Linked DNA regions of Homo sapiens. The protein of the gene in region 1 purifies or fractionates together with the protein of each later gene. This does not show direct contact. Each region holds a gene or a part of one and is shown on either strand. Other genes may lie near its edges. The genes, in order: UTP11, KLHL41, THNSL1 and CRNN.

Evidence for each region.
Region 2: the proteins of UTP11 (region 1) and KLHL41 purify together in Homo sapiens (affinity purification with mass spectrometry; 3 studies listed by BioGRID and IntAct, with this or other methods). This does not show direct contact.
Region 3: the proteins of UTP11 (region 1) and THNSL1 purify together in Homo sapiens (affinity purification with mass spectrometry; 3 studies listed by BioGRID and IntAct, with this or other methods). This does not show direct contact.
Region 4: the proteins of UTP11 (region 1) and CRNN purify together in Homo sapiens (affinity purification with mass spectrometry; 3 studies listed by BioGRID and IntAct, with this or other methods). This does not show direct contact.

Annotation. Positions count from the first base shown.
Region 1 is NC_000001.11:38,015,733-38,022,770, reverse strand, and holds part of UTP11 (probable U3 small nucleolar RNA-associated protein 11), read right to left. Parts: intron 6,413-7,038; coding exon 6,351-6,412; intron 5,104-6,350; coding exon 5,001-5,103; intron 4,308-5,000; coding exon 4,194-4,307; intron 3,713-4,193; coding exon 3,619-3,712; intron 3,519-3,618; coding exon 3,388-3,518; intron 73-3,387; coding exon 1-72. UniProt on the Homo sapiens protein: Part of the small subunit (SSU) processome, first precursor of the small eukaryotic ribosomal subunit.
Region 2 is NC_000002.12:169,519,672-169,526,709, forward strand, and holds the end of KLHL41 (kelch-like protein 41), read left to right. Parts: intron 1-1,189; coding exon 1,190-1,336; intron 1,337-5,913; coding exon 5,914-6,025; 3' UTR 6,026-6,587; downstream 6,588-7,038. UniProt on the Homo sapiens protein: Involved in skeletal muscle development and differentiation. Regulates proliferation and differentiation of myoblasts and plays a role in myofibril assembly by promoting lateral fusion of adjacent thin fibrils into mature, wide myofibrils.
Region 3 is NC_000010.11:25,011,934-25,019,616, reverse strand, and holds the start of THNSL1 (threonine synthase-like 1), read right to left. Parts: upstream 3,006-7,683; 5' UTR 2,925-3,005; exon of another isoform or gene 2,828-2,924; intron 1-2,827. Other genes in the region: ENKUR (enkurin), read left to right, coding at 3,681-3,757.
Region 4 is NC_000001.11:152,408,723-152,411,281, forward strand, and holds the end of CRNN (cornulin), read right to left. Parts: intron 2,222-2,559; coding exon 872-2,221; 3' UTR 521-871; downstream 1-520. UniProt on the Homo sapiens protein: Promotes cell proliferation, G1/S cell cycle progression and induces expression of the cell cycle regulator CCND1. Regulates proliferation induced by pro-inflammatory cytokine response via activation of NFKB1 and PI3K/AKT signaling pathways.

The DNA.
Region 1 (7,038 bases):
GAACAATTTCTTCTCTCGTTCAATCCGCTGTGTCAGGCAGTTATACTGCTTTTGCCTTTCTTTAGCTATTCGCTGGAGAAGAAACACACACATTCTCAGTGAACAATGAACAGGACAAAAATGAGTAAGAAACTGTTTCTTAATCCATTTAAGCCAACTGCATAGTTTCATCAACTCCCTTCTTTCACCAGAATCAACATAACGTGGTAACAATAACGTTGCCCATTTTAGGAACATCACATTCTGGAGCTGAAAGGAACCCTGGGCCAGACGCAGTGGCTCACGCCAGTAATCCCAGCACTTTGGGAGGCTGAGGAGGGAGGGTCACTTGAGCCCAGGAGTTCCAGACCAACGTAGGCAACATAATGAGACTCTGTCTCAAAAAAAAAAAATTAAAAATTAAAAAAGGAACCCTGTAGACTATCTTATCGAAACCCGTCATTTACAAACGCAGAAAAATGAGGCCCAGAGAAGAAGTGGTCCAAGGACACACAGCTCACCTGGAGCAGAGTCAGGACCGTCCCCCTCTCACAAATCCCAGGAATCTTTCCACTACTACACTAAGCTGCTTCAACCTTTGTGTGAGTGCCACAGTCACCTGAGATGATGGCAGGAATGAATCAGTGTTGGAAACCCTATACAAAGTGAATGGAGAGCAACAGAAGAGTCGGCAACAGAAGGGTCCCCAGGCAGTGTGCTGGTGCCTGAAAATCTTACCACTCAGAAAGCAGAAGAATTTTTTCAGCAGAAGCTCACCTGAGAATTCTCACTGCTAATGACTCCTCAAAGATCAGTGGGGTCCTTACATTTTGGGGAATCATCAACCTCAGAGAAACTGATGAAAGCTTTGGGATCTTTCTTCTTTTTTTTTTTTTTCTGAGGCGGAGTCTTGCTCTGTCGCCCAGGCTGGAGTGCAGTGGCACTATCTCGGCTCGCTACAACCTCCGCCTCCTGGGTTCAAGCAATTCTGCTGCCTCAGCCTCCCTAGTAGCTGGGATTACAGGTGCCCGCCACCACGCCTGGCTAATTTTTGTATTTTTAGTAGAGACAGGGTTTCACTACATTGGCCAGGCTAGTCTCGAACTCCTGACCTCAAGTGATCCACCTGCCTTGGCCTCCCAAATTGCTGGGACTACAGGCATGAGCCACCACGCCCAGCATGGGATGTTTCTTGAGATAAATGTACATACACATTTGTAAAAGGTTGTGCAAGCACATATACCTATCTGCACAAAATACCAGTGAGAAAGGGGGGTTTTCTCAGACCTCCTAAAGCTCACTCATGGGTTGTCTACCCACTCGAAGTTACAGACAAAATATCCTTGCAATCCACCCACCAGCAGTCTCTTAATAAAAATGATTTTGCAGTAAACAAAATAGAAAGAAACATAATTACTAGACAAAAATGGCAAAAATCTAAACCTCCCTAACTTCTCAAAAGCTATGCTGGTGAACTATTCTACATGGGAATTTGGAATACTAATCTCTTTAGGGACTACCACAATTCTTGAGAAGCGTCAGTGACACGGCTAATTGAAAGTACACCTAATTGCCGGGCGCGGTAGCTCACGCCTGTAATCCCTGCACTTTGGGAGGCTGAGGTGGGTGGATCACAAGGTCAGGAGTTCAAGACCAGCCTAGCCAAAATGGTGAAACCCTGTCTCTACTAAATATACAAAAAATTAGCCAGGCGTGGTGGCGGGCACCTGTAATCCCAGCTACTCGGGAGGCTGAGGCAAGAGAATTGCTTGAACCCAGGAGGCAGAGGTTGCAGTGAGCCGATATCACGCCACCGCACTCCAGCCTGGGTGACAGAGTGAGACTCCGTCTCAAAAAAAAAAAAAAGTACACCTAATTGACAAACAACAGGGTTATCACAAGAACACTCATGAGCAAGCTCTTTGGCTGGAAGTGTTATCTACAGAAGGAAATATTACTGGGCCTTAGACTTCAACAATTCACAGATTCTAGCACAGTCTCACAGCAGTGGTTTCAGACAGCTTTTGTTTTCGCTTTATTGCACAGACTGTCAGATTTATGGGATTACCCAATATAGTCAAACTAATTAGGGGTATTTATATTACTAAAGCAAGTTTAGCTGCCTCTGAGCTAGAGAAAACTGCTGTGAAATTAAACATTGGAAGCAAAACTGATGCAGTGTAAATGATTCAAATCAAAACAGAACAGCTGTCTGCTTGAAACACATTGACAGCATTTTTTTTTAATGAATCAGTCAGAAGAGTTCAACTCCAGAAGGCTTTCAGGAAAAGCATGTCTTCTGCACAACCCAGTTACAGTGACGGAAAGCACCATAAGGAAAAGCCAAAACAAAATTTTTGTTACAATACACAATATGAAAGACCTTTTGGGCAGGCATGGTGGCTCACGCCTGTAATCCCAACACTTCAGGAGGCCAAGGCGGGAGTAAACACTTGAGCTCAGGAGTTTAAGACCAGCCTGGGCAACTTAGCGAGACCCCGTTTCTACAAAAAAAATTTAAAATTAGCTAGGCATGGTGGCACACACCTGTGGTCCCAGCTACCCAGGAGGCTGAGGCAGGAGGATCGCTTAAGCCCAGAAGGTGGAGACTGCAGTGAGCCATAATCACACCATTGCACTCCAGCCTGGGTGACAGTGAGACCCTGTCTCAAGAAAAATAAAAACACAGAAAGACCTTTTGATGTGCGTATTCACTGCTAAAGGTTCAATATTAAAGTATTGCAAATCCTTTAATCTTCAGCAATCCCTTTCTCTGCATTTTCAAAACACTGGCATCTGTTACAAGTATTAAAAGCACAAAGCGCAGGGTCAGAATTGGGATTCAAACCCAGGTCTAAAGGCCAGAACCTAAGCTTCTGACCACTATACCTCCTCCGATCATAGAAATTAGGAAGCCCTTCTCCACTTCCATCCCATCATCAAATCATCCTACAAATCCACTTTTCTAAGGGAACTCATGAGTTTTCCATAAATAAATAATTATTTTAGGCCAGGCACAGTGGCTCACGCTTGTAATCCCGACACTTTGGGAGGCCAAGGCAGGCAGATCAACTGAGGTCAGGAGTTCAAGACCAGCCTGGCCAACATGGCGAAACCCCATCTCTATGAAAAATACAGAAATAAGCTGGGTGTGGTGTTGCACCCCTATAGTCCCAGTTACTGGGGAGGCTGAGGCATGAGAATTGCTTGAACCCAGGAGGCGGAGGTTGCAGTGAGCCGAGATCGTGCCACTGCACTCCAGCCTGGGAGACAGTGAGACTCTGACTAAAAAATAAAATAAAATAAATTTTAAAAATTATTTTAAATGCAGTAGCAAAAAAAAAAAAACAAAAAAAAAACACCTAGATTCCCCTAAGCTCACATGTGAAGAACAACAGAGAAAATTACCTTAAGTCCAGTCTGATTGGTAACTCCTTTCACTTTTTCTTTCTGCAAGGTCTCTATCCTGGGCCTATTAAAGACTCTGTCGACTAGCTCCGGGGCTGTTTGCAGGTGAGTTGCGACATCAAACTGTTCAACTAAAATTCAAGACAATCCTTAAGGCACTGTCGGTTTCTAACACCAAATGACACAGACTGGCATGGTAGACTGTCCCAGAAACCTTCAAACATTTCATACCTTCCTTTTTGGTGTCAAAAAAGAACACATGCTTGTTCTGTTGCTTCCCCTGGAAATCCAGCAGATGGAGCTCTGATTTTAGTCTTTCGATTTTCTAGAACACAGAATATGGTCTCACTTTATATTAGATTCTTCTAGGGTACCAAAAAAAAAAAAAAACTGCAAAAGTTTAAACCATTTCACATCATTATTGCCAGCCAGCAAAGAACTTGCTTTATTCTTTTAAAGGAAAGGATCCCAACAAATATCAGGTATTGGGCTAGGCACTTCCCAAGACGCACTTAATCCCTGCAACAGTCGCCTGAGACAGAAATGAGGGAAGAGCCTCAGGGAGTTGAATTTGCCCATTGTCATGGGGCTAGTAATTTATGGCAGTGCCAGAACTCAAACCCTAGGTCTGTCTCATTCCCAAACCTGAACTCTTTCCACTCTACCATGCTAACTATACTTCTAAATCATTATTACAATCAAGTGAGATTGTAAATGCCAGAAGAAATTAATGAATAACTTGAGATTGATGAATTTAAGTTTCCCTTCTTAACCAATAAAACCAATCAGAACAAAGAGTGAATTACCTTAGCTTCTGCAACCCTCTTCATTTCTATATATTTGACGTCCTGAGTTCTCATCAGCTTTAGTTGTTCTGGGGTTACTTCTTCCTTAGTCTCCTTAATAATATGTACTCCATCCTAAAATCCAAATTTAAAAGATATATTCCCTATTAGATTAAAATCATTAATAAGTTGTTGGCACAGTGCACGGCTAGAACAAAGACAACCATAGGCCAAGTGCGGTCACTCACACCTGTAATCCCAGCACTTTGGGAGACCGAGATGGGCAGATCACTTGAGGTCAGGAGTTCAAGACCAGCCTGACCAACATGGTGAAACCCCGTCTCTACTAAAAATACAAAAACTTAGCCGGGCACAGTAGTGTGTGCCTGTAGTTCAGCTACTCGAGAGGCTGAGGCACGAGAATCACTTGAACCCGGGAGGCAGAGGTTGCAGGGAGCCGAGGTCGCACCACTGCACTCCAGCCTGGGCAACAGAGAGTGAGTCCATCTCAAAAAAAAAAACAAAAAGACAACCAAATGCTGTATGCTAACAGCAATCCTAGACACAGGCCCCTGAGGCGTACGTTCAATGTAGCACCTCCAGTCATCTGTCCTAGAACAGCTCCAGGTATAAGACAACCCAGATTCAAAGGTAAAAATGCACGCTCCTCTGGAAGTGGAGGGTTTGCCTTGGACACTGACCAAGAGCACCTGGAGTAACCAGAGAAGGGTTAAATTAAGGCCAACGATTCTTCCTCTCCATCTCCTCCCTGTCCTTATTTTCCAATGTGTGGAGCTCAAAACACCAACCAAGCCATTGGGCACCCACCTGGAGTTTAACCCGAGTCATTTTGTAGTAGAATTCATCTGGATTTTTTTCAAGAGCCTTCTTCCGAAGAGCTTTGAGGTATTCTTGTTTTTTACGGTAGTCACTAAAAGACAGGTTAAATGAGGTTCATAGCAAAAAAAAAAAAATAGATAATTTTAAAAAACCAAAAACCCACAATAAGCAAACTTTACAAGCATCTAAAAGGTCACACAGAGTGAAACTCAAAAAAGCCAAAAGCACTGACTGGATCTGGACACTCCACTGTCACTGAGCTGAGCTCATGTCTTCGCAGGGTCCACAGTCTAATCAACAGTTCCTATTCCAGTGGAACCTGAAATTAACTGTCCCCAGCCTATATATGTTTCAGTGCCATTTATATCATTACAGGGAGACACCAAACAAAGTACAAATTAAAACTCCTTAGGATATGGTGCAAGCTTGGGCACCAAATGACCATATGTAATTCAGAAACTACACAGTACAGTATAGCGCAATGACTAGAATCATGGACTCTGGAGCCAGACAGCATGGGTTCAAATCTGGACTTGACAACTTCTGGCTAAGTAACCTTGGATAAGTTATTTAACCATCCTGAATCCCAATTTCATTTGTAAAATGAATACGGTAATAGTAACCCATCCCAGAAGGTTGTTGGGAGGGACAAATCAGTGTAAAAACGGTAAATATCCTAGAACACTGCCTGGCCCAATAACAATACTTAATTATCATTAGCCTTAAAATCTCTGGGACCTACAGAAACCCATTTAATCCATCACCACCATCTAGACCAGGGGCATAAAAAGGACCTCAGCTGACATGTATCGCTAACAAATAATTAAGAAGTATTTTGCAAACAAAGTGCTAACAGAGAACAAGAATGGGGATAATTGTTTTATAAAATGTTTTCAGAGTTCATTATCACCCACGCTTGGTCTCATGAATCCATCTTTCACATCTCTTCATTCCACATCACACACATGGTGATGTAAGAGACTCAACAAATGGAATTTCAGATTATATCCTGCACTTCAAGAAAACAAAGAGAAAAAGATTCAACTTTGGGCTCAAACACCAAGGCAGAGCCAAATCAAAGCCACTATGAGAAAATGATCTGGAACAACATAATACAAATAATTCACAATGCAACTACAGTTAAATAAATAATGATCTGCCTAAACAAAGAGAGAAATTTAGGATCACAGAAAAAATTATCTGACAGGCTGCCAGAGCTTTGGCCATTTTATCAATGGCAGGAAATTATCCCCTGTTGGACACTCAGGCAATTCAGCTGCAGTGCAAGGAGGTTGTAAGCTTTCTTGGCAGCGCCTCTACCAGAAAGACTGAACTCACTCTGCACGAAGTTTGTAATCTTTCTTTTTCTCCAGCAGGCCCAGATGTTTTCGAAAGCCAGGCTAGAAGACAAAAGAAAGAACAACAGTGCTTAGTTTCCTCCGCAAACACATATCCAAATCAACACGACATCTAACAGGCACAGGAGTCTCTGGAGTGCTCAGTAAATCCAGTCCTTGGAGCTAACCCATGACCCTGTTCCCTCCCCTCCCCACAACTGGGCTCTGCCCAAGGATGAGAGGGACCCTGCCAGCACCAGACAGGTCACAAGCACTGCTGTAGTAGGTTTCTTGGCCTATTAAGGACAGAGAGAGGCAACAATGACTCGGCACTAAGCAAGCAGTTGCCAGTTGTACTAAAATTACTACCAACTTAATCCAAGGGTTTATAAAATACTACAAAGGGAAAACATAGTAACAGGGAGGCAACTGTGGTAAGGGAGCTAAATTTAGAGTCTGGAGATGTGGGTTCAAATCCAAGCTTTACCTCTGAACAATCTGTGACCTTGGGCATGTCACTTAACTTCTCTGAGCTGCTATTTCCTGACTGTAACATGAAAATAGTACCTGCTTCTCCGGGTTATACTGAGGATTCAAGGAGCTTCTATTAATGGTAATGCCTGCACATGGCTTGACACATAGCAGCTTTCCAGCATGAGTTTACTATTATTATTATACTTGTGGTACTC
Region 2 (7,038 bases), on another chromosome or scaffold:
ACAGGGTCTCACTGTGTCACACAGGCTGGAGTACAGATTTTCTATAATGTACATATATTATTTTTATAATTAGAAAAAAATCGGCTAATTTTTTGTATTTTTAGTAGAGATGGGGTTTCACCATGTTGGTCAGGCTGGTCTCGAACTCCTTACCTCAGGTGATCCACCCACCTAGGCCTGCCAAAGTGCTAGGATTACAGGCATGAGCCACCGTGCCCGGCCTTAGGGTTGCCATATTGAAGGCTTTATATTTAATGAAGTTACATCTTTCAAATATTTTCTAGTAGCAAACTTAGTCATTTACTTTTAGATGCCTGTGCTCCTTGAATTTTTTTTTCCCCCCTTAAAGACAGGGTTTTGCTCTATCACCCAGGCTGGAATGCAGCAATGCGATCATAGCTCACCGCAGCCTTGACCTCAAGGGCTCAAGAGATCCTCCCAAGTAGCTGGGACTATAGGGACATACCACCAGGCCTAGCTCTGTGTGTGTGTGTGTGTGTGTGTGTGTGTGTGTGTGTGTGTGTGTGTGTGTGTGTGTAGACAGTCCATTTTGTTGCCCAGGCTGGTCTCATACTCCTTGGGCTCAAGCTATCCTCCTGCCTCAGTGTGTGTGTGTGTGTGTGTGTGTGTGTGTGTGTGTATGTGTGTGTGTGTGTGTGGAGGCAGTCCATTTTGTTGCCCAGGCTGGTCGCATACTCCTTGGGCTCAAGCAATCCTCCTGCCTCAGTCTCCCAAAGTGCTGGGATTACGGGCATGAGCCACCGAACCCAGCCGCTACTTGAATATTTATTTTTTATTTAGATGGAGTCTCGCTCTGTTGCCCAGGCTGGAGTACAGTTGCACAATCTCAGCTCACTGCAACCTCCGCCTCCCAGGTTCAAGTGATTCTCCTGCCACAGCCTCCCAAATAGCTGAAATTACAAGTGCGCGCCACCGTGCCTGGCTAATTTTTTGTATTTTTGGTAGAGGTGGGGTTTCACCATGTTGGTCAGGCTGGTCTCAAACTCCTGACCTCAGGTGATCTACCCGTCTCAGCCTCCCAAAGTGCTGGGATTACCGGCATGAGCCACCGCGCCTGGCTGCCTGGCCACTACTTGAATTTTTAAATTATTATTTCCTATAATTATTCAGTAAGTACATCTGGCATTTCTTTAAGTTTTACATTGACTATATTTTTAATGATACCTAGATGGGATGTAATGACCGAATTTCCCCAAGAAAGAAGCTCCATCAGTTTGGTCAGCCTGGCTGGATCTCTGTATGCAATTGGTGGTTTTGCTATGATTCAACTGGAGTCTAAAGAATTTGCACCCACTGAAGTCAATGACATATGGAAGTAAGTTCTCATCACTTCAATTTTCAGAATCACATATTAAATCAGATGACTGATAAACTATTTTGTAGTAAACAATAAGCCAGATTTTCCCAACATGCAAGCTACTTCTTGGTAGTAGACTAAACACTTCAAACCTAATTGAACTTCTGTACATGCCACTTACTTGAACAAGTATCTACTTCTAGTTAGCTCTGAGCCTGAGAAAGAAATCATCTGGGCAGGCCTGTTTCTTACTGTAAAATGAGAGTTGGACCTTTGATACTCTCAGTTTCATTCCAGCTCTAAGAGTATAATGCTATAGGCATCCAGTAGAGTGAAAGCCTCTTTGCTCCAGAGTAGTTTATTTCCTAACAAAACAGAGTTCTAAAAAAAATTTTATGTTTTTTACTTTTTTATTTTTATTTTTTTGAGACAGAGTTTCTGTCACCCAGGCTGGAGTACAATGGCGGGATCTCAGCTCACTGCAACCTCGGCCTCCCAGGTTCAAGTGATTCTCCTGCCTCAGCCTCCCGAGTAGCTGGGATTACAGGCATATCCACCACGCCCAGCTAATTTTTATATTTTTAGTAGAGACGGCATTTCGCCATGTTGGCCAGGCTGGTCTCGAACTCCTGACCTCAGGTGATCCACCCGCCTCAATCTCCCAAAGTGCTAGGATTACAGGCGTGAGCCACGTACCCAGCCTAAAGAAACATTTAACCTCTTGAGCTTTCCACTACTTCATTAGTTCTGTTTTCAATCTAATTTAAACAGCTTTCCAATTGTTTTAGGCTTCAGCTAATAAATGCTTTTTTAAAATGAAAAAAGTCAAAATAGCAATCCATTTTACCTGCCTGGAGGTGCCAGGCAGTTCTCCTAAGTATGACACTTGAAACTGTTACTCAATTGAACATTTTAGTGAGGCTATTAAAAAAAAAGTTTGTTTTTATTTTATTTTGAACTGAGATCGCGCCACTGCACTCCAGCCTCAGCTACAGAGCGAGTCTTAAAAGAAAAAAAAAAAAAGAAAAAAGAAACACAGAATCCCAGACCCTACTGAATGAGAATCTGTATTTTTTAACAAGATTCTTAGGTGAATTGTTTGCACATTTAAGTTTATAAGTACAGCTTTGGAAGAGTGCCATTTATACTTAATCAGTGAAGGCATACCACTAAGCCTGAGAGTGAAAAGTGGGTATTATTTGTTCTATACCTTAACCAGCAGATGCTTTATTCCCAGATGCTGAACTAAAAAGGCTGAAAAGCTGGTACCTTAACCAAACAATGATTTGTGCATTAGACATCATTTCCCCATGTTGTAATATTAACTAGCTGTGTAGAGGGCAAGAAAAAAAGTGGCTATGCAAGGAAATTAACTACTTTCCCTCCTCCCCCCAAAAAAGAGGGAGAAAGAGAAAAAAAATGAGATTTCCACGGAGCAAAGAGGCTAGAATTAGCAAAACAGTGAGATGGGGAAAAGCTGGAAGCAGTAGGAAAAAAGGATGAACTAATGAAGGCCGGGAAGGTTAGGGTTTTTTGGAAAACAGGGCCAGGTACCAAATATATAAATGGGCAGTGATTCTCAACCCTAGCTGTATGTTACAATCATCTGGGATGCTTTTAAAATATACCAGTGTCTGGGCCTTAACACAGACCAATTATATCAAAATTTCTGGAGGTAGAGTTGAGCATCCCTAGTTCCTAAAACCTTCCCAGTGATTTTTTTTTTTTTTTTTTTTTTTTTTTTTTTTGGTGAGACAGAGTCTCACTCTGTCACCCAGGCTGTAGTGCAGTGATGTGATCTTGGCTCATTGCAACCTCCAGCTCCTGGGTTCAAGCGATTCTCCTGCCTCAGGCTCTGGAGCAGCTGGGACTACAGGTGTGCACCACCATGCCCGGCTAATTTTTGTATTTTTAGTAGAGATGGGGTTTCACCATATTGGCCAGGCTGGTCTTGAACTCCTGACCTCAGGTGATCCACCCACCTCAGCCTCCCACAGTGCTGGGATTACAGGCGTCAGCCACCGAGCCCAGCCCCAGATGATTCTAATCAGCAGCCAGGGTTGAGAAACACTGATATTAAGTAATTGTGCTGTCAATCAGTGGGACCTCCCTGAAGCCCTCCTGGTTCCTAAGGGTTATCAAAAGCCATGCTGCCCCTGCAGGGAACAGTTACAGGCAGCAAAAGAAAGTACAGAATCTCCTGCTATAAAAGTGGCCCTGACATTGTTTAGGGAACCTAAAAGAGGGATCCTCTCTGATTGTGGTTTATTTTGCGATTAGAGCAGTGGTTCCCAAAGTTGCCTGCACGTTCGAATCACCAGGGTGCTTCAAAAAATATTAACACCTCTATCCCACTTATATTGACTGCAATTTAATTGGTCTGAAGTATGGCCTGGGCTTTGGAAATTTTAAAAGATCCATGGATGTTTCTATATGTGTAGACAAGTTTGGGAACCACTGGATTGGGTAAAGAGAAGAGGGGGGCATTCATCACTATCTGCTTGGCTATTTTGAGACTGGTATTTCCTAATTTGGGGTAGGATCTGGAGCATGATTCTCAAACTTTGCTGCATATTAGAAACACTTGGGGAGCTTTAAAAAATCCTGATGCCCAGGCCACCCTTCATACCAATTAACTCAATCTCTGAGAGTAGGACCTAGGCATCAGTATCTTTAACATCTCCAGCTGGTTCTATTGGCAATTAAGTTTGAGAACCTGTAATCTACTACAGTGGTTCCCAAAGCAGCATCAGCCTCACCTGGGTACTTATCAGAAAGGCAGATTCTCAGGTCTCACTTCAAATCTGTTAAATTAGAAACTCTGGGGGTGATAGGGCCAGCGATCTGTGTTTGCACAAACCCTCCAGGTGACTTAGATGTGTGTTAAAGTTGAAGGCCGCCGATCTAGAGAAACGTGGCTGCCTATTTGCCCTCAATTTCCTAGTGAACCTCCCTAACCACACATGCAGAGGTGAAAACTCTCAGTATACAACATTCTCAACATAGACCCTCTTACTATACGTAAAAAAAAAATTCCATTCTTGTATTTTTTTCTTGAAATCATTCCATTATTTAGGATTGACCAAGCTGAAAGTAAATATAACTGCCAGGAAGCAAACATTTTTAAACCTCATTTAACCTTAACCTCATATTGTTTAAATGTGGTCACTTTCTTTAGGTCATTTAAAACTATTATTTATCTCTTAATTTGTTGCCCTGAATTTTATGTAATTAAGGTTATTCCCTTTATTAGTAGCAAAATATTTTTTGTATGCTTTCCTCTACATAAAAATCAGTGCATGGTACAATTATTGAGAACTAATTTGGAACATTGATGAAATTAAGTCAGAGCATGTCTTATGTAGGTACAAGCTAATTTTAATAATTATTTTAAATCTCCATTCATCACAGAATGATTTGGGGTAAATCTTTTTTTTTTTTTTTTTTTTTTGAGATGGAGTCTTGCTGTGCAATCTTGACTCACTGCAACCTCCGCCTCCCGGGTTCAAGCAGTTCTCTTGCCTCAGCCTCCGGAGTAGCTAGGATTACAGACGCACACTACCATGCCTGGCTAATTTTTATATTTTTAGTAGAGACGGGGTTTTGCCATATTGGCCGGGCTGGTCTCAAACTCCTGATCTCAGGTGACCTGCCCCCCTCGGCCTCCCAAAGTGCTGGGATCACAGGTGTAAGCCACCACACCTGGCTGATTTGGGGTTGTCTTGTGCCAGGTCTTGACAATTTGTGGAGAGATATTAATATATTATTTGTCCTCAGATGCCTTTGAGGCTTGAGGACATTGATATGGGGGGGGGAATTAAAATGGAGTGATAATTGCTATAATACCATATAAAGGATGATATGAGAAAGAGAAAGCAACAAACTGTGCTTAAGGAAGGTGAGAAAGGTTTCAGAGAGAAGGCGGCATTTAGAAGCTTCCCACACAAAGAAAATATTCCAGGCACCAGGCAGAGCAGACATGTTCAGCACACATCGTACAAGGGAATTCAAGTTATCTGTATCTTTATAACCTTGAATATTCAGAGATGAAGACCAGTTCTTACCTAAGTCAAGTGCAAAGTCTAAGAGTAGTCCTCAAACAGAACAATAAAGGGGAAGGGGAACAAATTTTCATAAAGTGACAGCTGTGTATCAGGTGCCATGCTAGGCACTAGTGTATAGGAACAATTGAAGGCATAATTAAGTCTACCGATAGTCCCTGCTCTTCCTCAGTTCTTTCTCTTAAGCAAGAGTCTGCTTACTTTGACTCAGAGACCAGCCATCTTCATCAATTCAAAGGTGAATGAATGTTTAACTGCTTAGCTATTTATTCCTCTTCTCTGCAGTCTTTGATTCCCAGAGAATGCTGAACTGCCTAGGCATCCAGATTAAATACTGTGGCAGTAGTTCAGGCACATGCTCATCCAGACAATGCATATTTGGGAGATATTTAAGTTCTGTTCTACCAGGCAGGTGCATCTTCTTCTGAGTAAGAGCCACTAGGGTTTTTTCAAAGATCCACATTTGTATTCTGAACACAGGGAAACCTATGGAACTAAAGCTGCTTATTGATTACTTTTTTTTTCCTCCATCAGGTATGAAGATGATAAAAAAGAATGGGCTGGGATGTTGAAGGAAATACGTTATGCTTCAGGAGCTAGTTGCCTAGCAACACGTTTAAATCTCTTCAAACTGTCTAAACTGTGAACAAGGTGACAAAACATAATAGATTGGGAGGTGGTTTGTTTGGTGAATGGGGCTTTAATTTATTCTGTTTTTTAAAAGCTTGTACAGACACTCATGTAGAAATTATTCAAGAAGTTATTGTCTAAGAGATGAGCAGTAGGTAAGAAAACCTCAGTCATTGACTCTTCAATGTAATGATCAGAGTTTAAAACCATTTTCTAATAATAAATTAAATCTTCAGTTGAACAAATTATTTTGTGAATCTGTTTCACTCAATGGATTGTAAAGAAGGCTCCTAAATTTGAGTTGTTTGCTAATCATTTCATTTGCATCATTAGGGTATCCTTAAACTGATTTTCTATTACAATTGGAAGTGGAGAATATGTGCATCTACACTAAAAAAATGTTTAAGATATCAAAAACCTCTCCTCGTGCTTCAAAATGACAGGAATCCTGTGCATTATACTAAGAATTACATGCCATAAGATGACTTCAGAAATCCTACTTCAGAAGTGTAATAAATGGATGGGGAAATCGTTTGATGGGGAAAAGTCTCTTGTAAGTAAAAGTAGTCAAATTCAAATGGCCTTTTCTCTCCATTCTTTTTGCGACACTGGCGTATTATTTGTGGTTTCCAAATCAAATTTTTAAAATTTTAATTTAAAACCAGTAAATCACAGTCTTCAAGCCATTAACTACAGCATCTGTGGCAGGAGGGTGAGGGAGCACCCTTAGGAAATGGATTGATTCTTTAAACTGCTGGGACAGCAGTTGGGGTCAGTGGGTGATGTGGAGGAGGAAGTGTATTCACTGGTTTAAATTTTGGCTACACTCCATGAAAGGGCTACCTATTTGCTAAATTTCTGACAGCAAGGAAGGTGACTGTATTATTTCATTTTCTGGGATGTGATATCCTCCATTCACTGTTCCTTCTTAGTGCATATAGTAAGTTGACTCCTCAATCTGCTCATAACCATCACATTCAACTCTGTGCAAGTCATCAATTAATCATCACTTTTAGCCACACACCAACT
Region 3 (7,683 bases), on another chromosome or scaffold:
CATCCTCCTGTATACCTTAATCTCTGAATAACTTATAATACATAATACAATGCAAATGCTAGGTACAGAGCTGTTGTACTAATTTGCTTTTTTGTTTGTGGTATTTTTACTGTTCCATTATTTTCGTGTTTTTGTTTGTTTTTCAGACAGGCTCCCACTCTGTTGCCCAGGCAGGAGTGCAGTGGCACAATCTTGGCTCACTACAGCCTTGACTTCCTAGGCTCAAGCAATCCTCCCACCTCAGCCTCCCAAGTAGCTGGGACTAAAGGCACGCACCACCACACCCAGCTAATTTTAGTATTTTTAGTAGAGAGGGGGTTTCGCCATGTTGCCCAGGCTGGTCTCCAACTCCTGGGCTCAAGCAGTCTTCCTGCCTTGGCCTTCAAAAAGTGCTTGGATTGCAGGTATGAGCCACTGTGCCCAACTAAAATTTTAAAATATTTTCAATCTGTAATTAGTTGAATCTGAGAATGGGAAATTCACAGATATGGAGAACTAACTGTGTATCAGGACACAAACTAGCCAAAAGGAGGTTAAGCTCTACTGCTTCTGACTTCTGACCAAAAATTCTCTCAAACTTTTCATTCAGAGGGCCTCCCACTTGCCATGAAACAGAGGTGAGGGTGGAAGGACCACACAATCCAGTATAGTTCTGTAATCACAAGGATCTCACAACTAAAACAATTTTGCAAGTTCATCACTTAGTCTTTATATTACTATCAAAGCTGACTAAGCTTTTTCTGCCGTTAGACTTCTGCTGTTAGACATATTCTTAACGATCTCGAATATTTAATTGAAAACTTTAGTATCCACAATTCTATAACTTTGAGAATTATAAAGAACCTGTCTTTATAAAGGGTTTATTTACCTTCCAATTGTCTTATATACTCATCTACACCCATTTTATTCATTTAAATAGATTAAAATAATCCTTCGCAAAAAAAAAAAAAAAAAAAACAACTCTCATTTGTTTATGTACATCACAGGCATACCATTATATACGGGGATCTAGGATCTGTGCAAACTACAATCCACAGGCTAAATCTGGCCCACCATCATTTTCATAAATCAAGTTTCTTTGAAGCACAACTTCAGTCATTCATGTGCTCACATATTTGTTCAGTACCGTCTTTGGCTGCTTTTGAGCTACAATGGCAAAACTGAGTAGTTGCAACATAACCACTTGGCCTAAAAAGGCCTGAAATATTTACTGTCTACCCCTTTATAGACAGTTTGTTCATCCCTGTAGGTATATACCAGTTAATTCCCTGTGGACATGCGGTGGACACAGGCATTTTTTTGAAGTGTCATTTCAAGAGCATTATAAAAACTAGAAATAATTTTGCTTAAACACACTTTCAAAAGGCAAGGAGAATTGCAGATCAAATGTCTAAGAAAAAAGAAAAGTTTTTTTCCAAATGATTTAACAACCTGCTCATGGCTGTAAACTAACTATACCACAGTGAGGTCTTGCACAAATTGTTTAGCATTTTTTAAAGCATAATAAATATACAGACATCAGTGAAATTATTTTATTTCAGTAACCCCAGAACATCAAGGCTACCAAAGGCCAGTTGGTGCTAACTGCAGAAATCATGTTTTGCCCTTACTTGCTATTTCAGGAACTGATTAACACAAATAGTCTCAAGGTGTTCCTTCTAATTAGAAAATTCATAAGCTTTAGCCAGTGACTATCCACTTGGCTAATGGCGTTATCATTCCATGAGTCCTTGGTTCGAATCTTCGTACATACAGGAGGTTTCCCGCCAAATTTTTTCTCTATACTTGCTAAACAGAAATCCCAAACATAAAATACTCAAGGGCGAAAAGAAAGGGGCAAAGTGATATAGATTTGGATCTAGATCTAAATATAGATCTACAGATCCATCTATCTAAAATGTTTTGGAAGACAATCTGATGTGAAGAAATCTGGAGAATTTTCCCTAAGCGTCTGGGACAAAAATTAAAATCAACTGTATACAAAAAAAAAAAAAAGAAAAACTTAACGTATTCTTATGTAGTGAAATTCAGTAAGAGCCCAAAGTAAGGACCTACACATTCAGTAAAGCCTTTTTATACAGGAACTAAAAGGTTCACCAGGCCATTGTGTTGTTTTAATCACTCCGCCAGCCAACCAGGCAGTGAGAAACCCAGACTCAAGTGTGTTTTCTCTCCTCTCCGGGAAGCTTTATTTCCTTCGGGCAGAGTGGCCTCTGTACCGGTGGTTCAGAGGCATCCATCTTCCTCCCCAAATCCTATTACCAAAATGTCTTTTAAACACTCGGGTAAAAGCGTCTAAATGACTTTCCTACGGCAGGCCCATGTGCATAGATTTACGGGTGACCAGGTGGAACAAAAAGGAATAAAACCGCTTCTCAGAAGACAATTTTCCAACAAGGGACACCAAAAACTGGACAAAAACGTAAAGGCCCACTTAAAAGGCTTCTCCTCTTAGTTTAGGCTGCTCATTTACAAAGAGCAGGTCCACTGGTTCCTGGAGAACGACCTAGAGGAAGAGTCCCGACCCGGGGAAGAGCAGGCGCAGAGCCGACCCGGAGGACCGCCCAAGGGGCGGTCCCGGGAGCAGGGGCGGGAGGGCGAGCGCAGCAGGCGGAGGAGGCCGCGGGCCCCGTGCGCGCACTCACACACGTGGCGGGCAGGGCTGCGCGGCGTTCCGAGGAGCCTCGACCAGAAGCAGCAGGAAAAATGCGCGCAGAGTTGAGATGACCAGCGAGTAGCGGAAAGGGGAAGGGACGGTACGGGGAAAGGCATGCGATGGGAGCGGGCTGGCTTCTAGTTTTCCTTCCTTTCTCCTCCAATAACTCACCAAGGAAATCTCACTGAGAAGACGGGGGAAATGAAAGGAAATGGGGGAGCAGTGTCCACGAGCCGCTAAAGCCTCCACAGGAGACGGAGCACCGTACCTGCAGCTAGCTCCCCGGTCCCGCCCCCGCGCAGTGGACTCTGCGCCTGTGCCTGCGGCGGCCAGCGTGCCTCCGCTCCACGCCCTTCCCCGAGCGGCCTCGCGCAGGGCACGTGACTCTCCTTTCTCACTGTAGCCTATCCGAGCACTCCGATCTCCTCAGGCTCCTCCCCTCCCTCGTCTCCCTGGCGGCGCTGGCCTTGCGTCCTCGTGGTCTCAGCCGCTCGCTCCGCCCACACCGCGATTGGGGCCTGCTCACAAAAACCTTATTGGGTGACGCCTGCGCACCAGCTGCGCTTTGCCGTCTCTACTAGGATTTTTCTTTTTTCCCCAGATACACAGAAATAGAAAAGAGCACAGTTTTTAAGGGGACATCATTTTCACCCCGTTAACTTTCAAAGGCACGTAAAAACAGTGGCTTCCAAATGAGCTTCTCTAGCAGAAGGCGCTGCAGAAAGAGGGAAGAGGGGAGACCTAGTTTGCGGTGCTGCCTGCCACTTCCTCGTTGCCTAGTAACGGTTTCCACGGCAACCGCACAGTCAACGACGCTTAGCAATCCGGAGAGAAATAGGGTGTTTTCTTCCCGAGAGAGGACTGCTAAGAGGGGGTTAAAGGGGGACGATGTGAAGGAGAGAACCTGTGGTCCTTCAGAAGGCGAAGAAGAAAGAAAGGGGAAGCAGTGAAGAAAGGGACGGAGATACTGGGACAGGGAGAAAAAAGTTGTGGAGAGTAGCTTTTAAGGAGTCATTTGGTGGCCATGGATCCAACGTGCTCTTCTGAGTGCATTTATAACCTCATACCCAGTGACTTGAAGGAGCCTCCCCAGCCTCCTAGGTATGTGGATAAGCAAAGACTATCACTTGAAACAAGAATGGGGAATACTCAGTATTAATTAAGCATACATATACTGGAATTTTTAATAATAAATAAAATGTATTTTTGCCTCGATGAAGTAGCCTTGGAGGATAACTTGTTAGAGAAAAGGTCGAAATATCTAGGTATTCAGCATCTCACAGTTTTACAGAGAGGGCAGTCTGGCGCTGTGAGATGACCATTTTATTATATTACACTTAACCTCTTATTAATACGGTATGTGATTATTGTGTAATTTAATTATATGTGATATACAGCATAGTATGAAGTTTCATGTTGAAAAGAAAAAAATCACAATTCTATTATCTTGTTTAAGGATACTTGATGTTTGGTTTCAGGAGTTCGGTGTTGTATTTCTAACTGCACTACTCCCTCTCTAATGGGATAGGATAGGACTTTTCCCCCAAGATTTTTATGAAATATAAATTTACATTTGCTTTTGAGCCTCAGGTTTTTGATCAGTGAAACGAAATATCTACCACTATTAGGCAGTTTCTAAGGACTTTTTCAGATCTAATGGTTTAAATGGAAGGAAGAATTGGTGGATAGATAATGAACCAAAAAATATGTAATTGAGTTGAAATTTTACATAGGTCTTAGAACCTCTTAAATTCTCCAAATCTCAAAAACGTGCAAAGGAAGCACTTCAGTTACTCCCATCTGTAGGGACTTCTTAGAACTTACTTAAATCTGTGGGGAGCAAAGAAAGTAGTGGAGAAAATCTCATTTCTCCTAGGACTTGAAATGTTTCCTGTCTTTTACCATCATCCTTGTCCGTATGCAAGTCAAAACCACATTTGAAAAGGACTGGACTAAAAATCGGGCCTAGCAATTAATTGTCTTTGTGAACTTTAGAATAAAGTTTCATTTGTTTACTGATCTGTGAGATAAATGTACCAGATAATATCCAAGGCCCCTTTTAGATCTAATGGTCAATTATTTTTACTAGTATTAGGGTAATAGCTTCAACAAGTAGGCAGCTTCTTCAATTTTAAGTATCTGGTTTAAATTAGAGCAGTAACTGTATTACATCTCCATTAGCATATCAACATCTAGAGACTGGAAAGAGGAATGTAAAGTAAGTTATGGCACAGTTGCAGAATTTATTTTCAAATTTTCTATTGTTGCACCAACTTTTGGTTTCAAATTCCTGCATATTACATGAGATAAAACTCCTCTATAACAGATTGGTAGATTGTATTTCTATAGAATATTGAATTTGAGAGTTATTTTATTAGGTAGGTATTCTGTTCTTTGGCAAATTAAAAAGCTTTACTGCATCTAGACGATTTTTTTTTTCAAAAAAAATTTATAGGAACAGTCTTTATTCATTTGGCAAGCATTAATGGAGCCCCTATTATGTGTATAATATTGCACTAGTATATCTGTTCTTGGTGCTGTTGGAGTGATAGCACAGACTTCTTGGTTTTACTATGAAGAAATGAGTAGAAGAAAGATTTATGATTAGAGGAAATAGAGGCACCCAAATGTGATGCCAAAAGAATCATTTCTGTTAGGTTAAAGTCAATTTACACTGGCAAGATTCTGACAACTGCCTGGCTTTTGATCTCCCACGCCTCAGAGTTTACCGTCTTTTTGGGGAACTGAAATATGAACACTAAAATTTATCATTGAAAACCATAATGAGAGATGAAGATACTAAATGAGAACTTAGAAGATGAATGTATGTGACCAAAATCGGATGAAAGGCACTTTTCTGCAGTTGAACTATTGGCTGAGACTTAAGTTATGAAAGCCTCAGAGTCAATGGGAAGTCATGATTCAGTTTTCAAAATTTGAGTTACTCATGATGCATAAGATGGTTTCCAAGATTTTCACCAAATCTGTCACCCTTTTTTTTTTAATTACTTTTTTTTCAAGACGGAGTTTCACTCTTTTTGCCCAGGCTGGAGTGCAATGGCGCCATCTTGGCTCACTGCAGCTTCTGCCTCCTGGGTTCAAGCGATTCTCCTGCCTCAGCCTCCCGAGTAGCTGGGATTACAGGTCCCTGCTACCATGCCTGGCTAATTTTGTATTTTTAGTAGGGATGGGGTTTCACCATGGTGGCCAGGCTGGTCTTGACCTCCTGACCTCCAGTAATCCACCCACCTCTGCCTCCCAAAGTGCTATGATTATAGGCGTGAGCCACCACGCCTGGCCTATCACCCTTTATTGATGTCTGCAGTTATTGAATATCTCCAGTCATCCCCTCTTTCCATTTTGTTTAAAGCAATATTCCAGTTATGGTCTGAACAGTCCATGAAACCATTATCTCCTTTCCATAATTCTTGGCACAATATTTTCATCCATTCAGCCTAAGCTTCCATAAGCATTTTGACAGTCATGTCCAACTATTGGCTCACACTAAAATACCCTGTATGGATTTTGACTAAGGTTGGTCTCTCCCATCCTCTAATTATGTAGCTGATTCTTTTTTATCTCAACTCATTAATCTATGGAGATAGTTTTGCATTTGAATCTTTTATACATTCTGTTAACCATTCTTTTTGTGTCATTTGCAAATTTAATAAATATGTCTTTTATATCTCTTATCTATCATAGAACATAGTATATTAGTCTGTTCTCACGCTGCTAATAAAGACATACTCGAGACTGGGTAATTTATATTTCAAAAGAAGTTTAATTGACTCACAGTTTCACATGGCTGAGGAAGCCTTACAATCATGGCAGAAGGCAAAGGCGGAGCAAAGTCACATCTTACATGGTGGCAGGAAAGAGAGTGTGTGCAGGGGAACTCCCCTTTATAAAACCATCAGATCTCATGAGACTTATTCACTATCATGAGAGCAGCACAGGAAAGACCCACTCCCATGATTCAATTACCTATCACCAGATCCCTCCCATGACATATGGGAATTATGGGATCTCATCAATTTAATGTGAGATTTGCGTGGGGATGCAGCCAAACCATATCATTCTACCCCAGCCCCTCCCAGATCTCATGTCCTCACATTTCAAAACCAATCATACCTTCCCAACAGTCCCCCAAAGTCTTAACTCATTTCAGCATTAACTCAGAAGTCCACAGTTCAAAGTCTCATTTGAGACCAGGCAAGTCCCTTCTGCCTACAAGCATATAAAATCAAAAGCAAGTTAGGTACTTCCCAGATACAATGGGGGTCCAGGCATTGGGTAAATATAACCATTCGAAATAGCAGAAATTGGCCAAAACAAAGGGGCTATAGGCCCCTTGCAAGTCCAGATTCTAATAGGGCAGTCATTAAACCTTAAAGTTCCAAAATGATCTCCTTTGACTCCATGTCTCACATCCAGGTCACGCTGATGCAAGAGGTGGGATCCTATGGTCTTGGGCAGCTCTGTCCCTGTGACCTGGCACAGTACAGCCCCCATTCCGGCTGCTTTCATGGGTGGGCATTGAGTGTCTGCAGCTTTTCTGGGTGCATGGTGCATGCTCTCAGTGGATTTACCATTCTGAGGTCTGGAGAACAGTGGCCCTCTTCTCACAGCTCCACTAGGCAGTGCCCCAGTGGGAATTCTGTGTGGGGGGCTCCCACCCCATATTTCCCTTCCACACTGCCCTAGCAGAGGTTCTCCATGAGGGCTCTGCCCCGAAGCACATCTTTGCCTAGACATCCAGACATTTTGATACAACCTTTGAAATCTAGGTGGAGGTTCCCAAACCTCAATTCTTGACTTCTGTGCACCCGTAGTCCCAACACCATGTGGAAGCCACCAAGGCTTGGGGCTCGCACCCTCTGAAGCAATGGCCTGAGCTCTACGTTGTCCCCTTTTAGCCATGGCTGTGACTCAGGGCACCAAGTCCCAAGATTGCACAAAGCAGCAAGGCCCTGGGCCCAGCCCATGAAACCATTTTTTCTCCTAGGTCTCTGGGCCTGTGATGGGAG
Region 4 (2,559 bases), about 110 Mb from region 1:
TGATAGTCTCTACCCCATAACATGGTTTATATCTGGTGGGTGAGACATCATGAGAGGTCAGAGCTGACACTGAGGGGGAGGTAGGAAGGGAAGCACAAAATTCTGGCCCCTGGCTCAGTACCTGGTAACACAAGCTTTCTCGCTCTTTCCCTACACAGCCACTGGGGGCCTTCTTCCATTTCTTGGTAATCTTAAATCAGCTTTCCTGTGTGACCTTACAGGTGAATAGCGGTTTAACGCTATAGAATTAGAGGTAGTGAAAGACCAAGAGGAATTTTGCCTATCTATCTAAATACTAATTGTCTTTTCAGGGCCATCATAAAGAAAGCGCCTTTTGTATGAAACCTTTGCTGGTCCATCTCTGCCAAGTATTAAGTATGATATATAGCAGGAATCTCATATAATATTTTCTCAACTAGTTGCTCTTCAAAGGTAGGGACTATGTCCAGTTCATCATCTCATAACTCTACAGCCTTTGGCCTGTAATATCAATAGAAGGTGGTTGAATGAGACACAGAGGCCAGTGGCTTAAGGTTTTATTGATGCATTAGGGTAGATGGGGCAATAGAGAGATGTCAGAGATAAAAATAGTCCTGAAACCCCCCACAAGATGAGGACAATTCAGTACAAAGGGGTGACTTGCTCTGAGTCTTCCTGCTCCTGAGAGGGTCTGCACCGCAAAGCAGGTAAGAAAGAAGAGTTCAGGATAGAAAGCTCCTTGCAGAAATTATCTCATTGAGAAAGACCTAAAAGGGAAGCTGCATAATGAAGAGCTGATGTCCAGGGATGCACCCACTGGATTGGCCATGCAGGACAAGCCAAACTCTCTCCAGCTGTCTTCTTCCAGTACTGGACATTGGAGTCGGGGAAGTCATGGCTTGGTGCTTCTCAAGTAGGAATACAGCTCTCTAGCTGTGATGCCTCGCTTCTCTTCTGACTGGGCTGCATCCTGGCCCTGTGCTGAGGAAACACTGGTATGCAAGTTGCCCTGGTCCAGCCTGAGGATCACTGTCTCCCTTGAGTGGTCATCAACCCATTCCTCACCAACCACTGTGGGCTGTCTGTCTCCCTGCCCTTCTGTCACACAGCGCCTTGGGTGAGTGCTGCTCCACTCCTGCCTTCCTGACTCAGTGCTTGCCCCAGTCTGGGCCTGTCCTCCCGGTACTGTCTCTCCTGCCTCAGGGTTGCTCACTTGCATCCATCTTTGACCACTGCCTGGCTGCGTCTGGGTCTGTCCCTGTTCTCTAGCCCCTCCGTGGCTTACAGTTTGGCTTCTGTCCTGCTCCACAGTCTCGGTGTGTGACCCTGCCTGTATCTGAGTGTGTCCTCCTGTCACAGCCTGGCTGGTCTGGCTCCTGCCTTGACCGTGGATCTCAGTCCCTCTGTTCTGGCCATTGGTGGACTCCTGTGTCTGGGTGCTGGTGCTTCCTGTCTGGTGGCTGCTGTCCTGCTCCACGGTCTGGGTGGGTGTCTGGGTGTGTGTCCCTGCCTGTATCTGAGCATGTCCTCCTGTCACAGCCTGGCTGGTCTGGCTCCTGCCTTGACCGTGGGTCTCAGTCCCTCTGTTCTGGTCATTGGTGGCCTCCTGTGTCTGCTTGCTGGTTCTTCCTGTCTGGTGGCTGCTGTCCTGCTCCACAGTCTGGGTGGCACCTGCCTGGGTCTGAGTTCCAGATCCAGTCACAGTCTCACCTGTCTGGTGGGCTCTGTCCTGTTCCCTGGTCTGTGGCTGTCTCTCTGGCCTCATCTCTGTTGTCTGATTCCTCTTGCCTTCTCCAGCTTTCTGGGTCTGCTCTGTCTGCCCAGAGAGTTGTATCTGCGGGCTTATTCTTTCCTGGCTCTGGGACTCAGCTTGCCTGTCATAGCTGCTGACCCACGCAGAGCCAGTGGCCTGACCCTGGGTCTGAACCCCAGGCCTGTTCTGCCCTCTGGAACCCTGCTGGCTCTGTCTGTGGCTGCTCCCCTCATAATGCTGCCCTTTCCCCGCCCTTCCCACTTCAGTGCCACTTCTCTGTCCTTCGCCCAGCTCCTGCGAGGCCCCAGAGTGGAGGCTTCCAGACTCTTGAGAGCCGCAGGCTCCCTCAGCACTCTCGCTCAGTGTCTTGAAACAGGCCTGGGCAACTTTAAACACTAAGACCAGGAATTCCTTGAATTCCACAGTCCCTGTGTGGTCTTCATCCAGCAGACGCAGGACCTCATCCACAGTTGCTGGATCGTGGGGTTTCTGAGGAGAAGATGAGGTGGAGTCAGCATCCCTCCCCTGAGGAGGACATGGGCAGGTCCCTTCCAATCTGCTGCCAGCTTCCCCTGCCTCAGACCCCACACTACACACACATACGGCTAGAGCAGCAGCAAGACTTAATTGCCTTTATTTTTTTTTAGTCCCGTCTCTCTCCCTCAAGTGTAGAGAGCATTTTTTGTTTGGTAGCCTCTATTTGGCACAATTTCTGGGCTACAGGAAAATTAGATAAAGATTTATTGAAGAGTTAATAAATTATTGAATTCACAATGCAACTGTTTGGGCTCTCAAGTTGACTGTCTGGGCTGCCCTTGGCACCTTGC